Linked DNA regions of Homo sapiens: region 1 is linked to region 2. The links come from fine-mapping of genetic effects on gene expression. Tissue or cell type: whole blood. Region 2 holds a variant in brackets; the other region holds the start of a gene. All regions are shown on one strand. Distances are between the middles of the regions.

Region 1 (2,612 bases), 32 kb after region 2:
CAGCCTTGTTCCTTCCACACGTCCCGCCAGTAGCACTTGGGAAAGGAACAAGAGAAACATGATATAATCACACGAGAAAATCTAGATCAAGCCCTGGAAATCATATTGGCCCTTGGAAAGCAGAAATATGCAAATAAAAATAAGCCATTTCGTTGGAATTGGAGTTTGCACATGATTATCTGACTATGGGAGTTCAGCTTCCAGTACAAGGAATAAAGGAACAACAGGCAGGGTTTAGAGCGAGGGTTTCAACTACGTCAGACCCGTTATGTGCAGGCTCCATGGGTTAGCAGCAGCCTTTTGGAACGGGGTGGAAGAGAATGGAACGGAATTTAATCCGAACAGATCCAGCTGCGTCATGTGAGCTTAAACAAGCGTCTCCCTTTAAACTTGTGCTTCAGTCATCCAGACCCACAGGCACAGAGTACACGCGTAAAAGGCATTTCTCAGTGTCGGCTGTGGGTCAACAAAGTTCGAAAGCCGTCACCGGAGATCTATAGGGTCAGAAGCGGGAGCGGGGTGCGTCCCGACCCGCAAAAGTGCAAGGTCACTGGGACCGCCCGAGCTGCAACCGTGGGACGGGGCTGATGCTGCGGGTCCAGGAAGGCAGCGCTGGGCGGGGCAGACACCGCCAGGAAACGGCGGACGAGTGCGGGGATCCTTGATGTGGGGGTGTCGGGCTTAGGCCAGGGGACGGGGGGGTGGGGATGGAGGGGCGAGGAGCAAGGAGGGAATCGCGGGAGACCCCACAGGAGGCGGCCTGAGCGCCGGGACGCAGACCCCTCCCCAGCACCCGCAACCCTCGGGACCCCCGGGAGAGCCGGGCTGCGGGCGCGTCCACGCCGGGGACGCGGGACATTCCCCGCCCGCAGGGGCCTGTCCTCACCGACGGCAGCGGGGCCCTCCCTCTCCCGCGACAGCGCCGCGGCGGATCCTTCAGCCTCTGCCGCTGCAGCAGCGAGCGTCGACCCCGCGACCCAGGCCGCCGCCGCCACCCCGACCCGGGCACCAGCTCCCAGCCCCGACCTGCCCCTCGGGAGCGAGCCCCGTGACCGCGCGCGCGACCCCGCCGGGGAGCCGGCCTTGCGGAACGCTCAGGCGCGCTACTTCAGAGCATGCGCAGCAAGACCGCGCGGCCCGTTCCTTAGGTAAACCGCTGCTCCGGGTCTTCCCTGCGCGGCGCCGAGCCGCAGGCCTGGCCTGTCAGCGCATGGGGGCGGGGACGTAACTCACGGAAAAGGCGGGGCCATCCCGAGATTGGACGGCGGCGTCCAGGGGCGGAGCTAGGATGGGGGAGCTGAACAGGACGCTCTTGGCGTAAAGGGGCTGGGGTAGGGGGCGCTTAATTGAGACCCCAGGACGGTCCCCAGTATCTGAGGCTGCCCGCAGGAAACGGAGCGTTTGCTGAGATGCACTCTTGGGCCTGTCAGTTTCCTGACCCCGTGGGAAGGCGATTCTCATGCATCTCATTGACGCCCCCAGTGACCCTACCCCAGAGCGGAACCAGTGTGAGATTCAAATAAACAGCGATAGCAACGGATTATAACCTTGACTACGATATGAGTCCAAACTGAAGGAAATAAGTCAACGGGGGAGAAGGGACAGTTGTTTCTTACATCAGAAAGCCAACAACGACAAAAAAATACCTGGGCCGGGCGCGGTGGCTCACGCCTGTAATCCCAGCACTTTGGGAGGCCGAGGCGGGTGGATCACCTGAGGTCAGGAGTTCGAGAACAGCGTGGCCAACATGGTGAAACCCCGTTTCTACTAAAAATACGAACATTAGTCGGGCGTGGTACTGGGCGCCTGTAATCCCAGCTACTCGGGAGGCTGAGGCAGGAGAATAACTTGAACCCGGGAGGCGGAGGTTGCAGTGAGCCGAGACGGCGCCACTGCACTCCAGCCTGGGCGACAGAGTGAGACTGTGTCTAAAAAAAAAAAAGCAGAAATATTACATAGTATTACAAAGTCTGCATGACGTGTGATGTAACACATTGAATGTAGAAGCAGGTATGAGAGCCAGTAGTCTTCTTTTAAGCCCGCAACAAAGATATTTGCAAAAATGTATAACTATGTCACTCGTCTCACTAAATTTCTTTGGGAAAATATTGTACTTTTTCATAAAACTATGTTAACACAATCAGCTTACTATTTTTTGGTAAGATCTTTATTGAAATATAATTCACATACCATGCATTTCTCCCATTTAAAGTGTACAATTAAATGATATGTAGTATAGTCAGAGAGTTGTGCAAACAGCACCATAGTCAGTTTTAAAACCTTTCATCACTCCAAGAAGAAACCTTTAGCCACCACCCTCCAATTTGCTAATCACCCCAGCCCTAAGTAATATGATCTATTTTCTGTCTTTATAGATTTGCGTATTCTGCATATTTCATATAAATGAAATCATGCAACAAATATGTGGTCTCTTGTGACTGACTTCTTTCGCCTAGCCTTAGCATAGCACTTTCAAAGTTCATCCATGTTGGCCGGGTACAGTGACTCTTGCTTGTAATCCCAGCACTTTGGGAGGCTGAGACAGGAGCATCGTTTGAGCCCAGGAGTTTGAGATCAGCCTAGGCAACATAGTGAGACTCTTTCTCTACAGA
Region 2 (2,606 bases):
GAACTCCTGACCTCAAGTGATCCACCCACCTCAGCCTCCCAAAGTGCTGGGATTACAGGTGTGAGCCACCATGCCCGGCCAAGGATTTGAATTTTTTGCTTAAAAACTAAGACACACACTATCCTAGGCCTGCACAGGGTCAGGGTCATCCATGTCACCATCTTCGACCTCCACATCTTGTCCCACTGGAAGGTCTTCAGGGACAATAATACATTTAGAGCTGTCATCTCCTATGACGACAGTGCCTTCTTTTGGATACCTCCAAAAAGTCTTGAAGGACCTGCCTGAGGCCGTTTTACAGTTAAAAAAAATTTTTTTTTTTTTTTGATACAGAGTCTCACTCTGTTGCCCAGGCTGGAGGGCAGTGGCACCATCTCAGCTCACTGCAACCTCCACCTCCCAGGTTAAGCGATTCTCACGCCTCAGCCTCCCAAGTAGCTGGGATTACAGGCTGGCGCCACCATGCCTAGCTAATTTTTGTATTTTTAGTAGAGACGGGGTTTCACCATGTTTCCCAAGCTGGTCTGGAACTCCTGACCTCAGGGGATCTGCCTGCCTCAGCCTACCAAAGTGCTGGGATTATAGGTGTGAGCCAATGCTGTGGCTGGCCTACAGTTGACTTTTTAAATAAGTAGGAGTATATTCTAAAGTAATGATAAAAAGTATAGTAAATAATCTAATAACATATTTATTATCATTATCAAATATTAGGTACTATACATAATTGTATGTGATCTTTTTTTTTTTTTTTTTGAGATGGAGTTTCACTCTTGTCACCCAGGCTGGATGGAGTGCAATGGCACAATCTCGGCTCACCACAACCTCCACCTCCCAGTTTCAAGCGATTCTCCTGCCTCAGCCTCCCAAGTAGCTGGGATTACAGGTGCGCTGTACCTGTAGCCAAGCCTGGCTATTGTATTTTTAGTAGAGACGGAGTTTCTCCATGTTCCCCAGGCTGGTCTGGAATTCCTGACCTCAGGTGATCCGCCCGCCTCAGCCTCCCAGAGTGCTGGGATGACAGGTGGGAGCTGTCGTGCTCTACTTTTATTTCTGAGACAGGTTCTCTCTCCGTCCGCTGGGCTGGAGTGTAGATGCATGATCACAGCTCACTGCAGCCTCAACCTCCCAGGCTCAGGTGACACTTCCATCTCAGCCTCCGAAGTAGCTGGGCATGTACCACCACACACAGCTAATTTTTAAATTTTTTTGTAGAGACGGGATCTCACTATGTTGCCCAGGCTGGAGTGCAATGTCGTGATCTTGGCTCACTGCAACCTCCACCTCCCGGGTTCAAGTGATTCTCCTGCCTCAGCCTTCCAAGTAGCTGG[G/T]ATTACGGGTGCTCGCCACCACGCCTGGCTAATTTTTTGTATTTTGAGTAGAGACAGAGTTTCACTATGTTGGCCAGGCTGGTCTCGAACGCCTGACCTCAGGTCATCCGCCCACCTCGGCCTCCCAAAGTACTGGGATTACAGGCGTGAACCCCCGCGCCTGGCCTGCTTGTGGGGGTTTTCACGGATGCTCTTGATCAGGCTGAAGAAACTCCTTTTATTCCTAGTTTGTTGAATGTTTTTATCATGAAAGCGTGTTGGAGGTTGTCAAATGTTTTGTGTCTATTCAGTGATCACACGGTTTTTGTCCTTTTCTCTACTGATCTGGTATGCAGGCATCCCCATCACACACTAGGCTTGGTGACTGCACTTGAGGGACTCACAGGACTTAGCCTACCATCATACTAGTGGCTGGGATTTACTACGGTGAAAAGATGCGACGCAGAATTAGTAACAGGAAGATGCATTTGGGGTGAGGGCCGGAGGAAACCAGGTACAAGCCCCCAGAGTCCCCTCCCCTGGGGTCCCCTCCCGCAGAATGTGCTGAATCCTCCAGCCTCGAGCTGTGACATGTGCAAAGTGTTCTCTACCAGGGAAGCCTGCCTGAGCCCAGGAGTCCAGGGTTTTCACTGGGGGTTGCTCATGTAGGTACGTTGTGCCTGCGTGACTGAATATGGTCACCGAAATGCCAGGCTCAGAAGAAAAGCAAGTGTTCAGCAAATATCACATGATTTGTATAGAAAAGAGTGAGCAGTTGTTATTTGGGGATAGTATTGTATCCACATAGGAGCTCTTTACCAGTCAAGTTCCCAGATGCCAGCTGGGCGTGGTGGCTCATGCCTGTAATCCCAGCACTTTAGGAGTCCGAGGCGGGTGGATCACTTGAGGTCGGGAGTTCGTGACCAGCCTAGCCAACATAGCGAAACCCCGTCTCCACTAAAAATACAAAAATTAGCTGAGCGTGGTGGTGCGCACTTCTAATCCCAGCTACCTGGGATCACTCACAGTGATCTTGCAGTGAGCCAAGATCACACCACTGCACTCCAGCCTGGGCGACAGAGTGAGACTCCGTCTCAAAAAAAAAAAAAAAAAAAAAAAAGTTCCCAGATGCCAGCCAAGGGTGAACCTTGCACACAGGCTGTTCTTAGGGCAGCAGTCTCAGGCCTGCTGTGTTACATTAATTGGTTTTGCATGTTGATGCATTCCTGGGATAAATCTTACTTGGTCATGGTATATAATCCTTTTTTATGTTGCTGGATTCTGTTTGCTGGTATTCTA

What was found. PIP is the estimated chance that this variant, and not a neighbour inherited with it, causes the effect.
Region 1: it holds the start of FLYWCH1, and the variant in region 2 is fine-mapped to the expression of FLYWCH1 in whole blood (TOPMed, PIP above 0.99). The same link has a PIP of 0.9 or more in blood mononuclear cells, breast, cerebellar hemisphere, cerebellum, esophagus mucosa and fibroblasts.

What each region holds. Positions count from the first base shown.
Region 1 is chr16:2,910,429-2,913,040 of GRCh38, reverse strand. It overlaps FLYWCH1 (FLYWCH-type zinc finger 1), which reads right to left and starts at 1,110. Exons shown (of 10, transcript NM_001308068.2): 1 at 887-1,110. RefSeq lists silencers at 477-666, 640-739, 770-919, 940-1,249, 1,300-1,359.
Region 2 is chr16:2,942,542-2,945,147 of GRCh38, reverse strand. All of the region lies in intron 9 of FLYWCH1 (FLYWCH-type zinc finger 1), which reads right to left. It overlaps FLYWCH1-AS1 (FLYWCH1 antisense RNA 1), which reads left to right. Exons shown (of 4, transcript XR_007064947.1): 3 at 1,664-1,821. Among named protein-coding and RNA genes, the nearest start is that of FLYWCH1-AS1, 12 kb to the left of the region's middle. The variant G/T (reference allele first, on the strand shown) is at 1,329.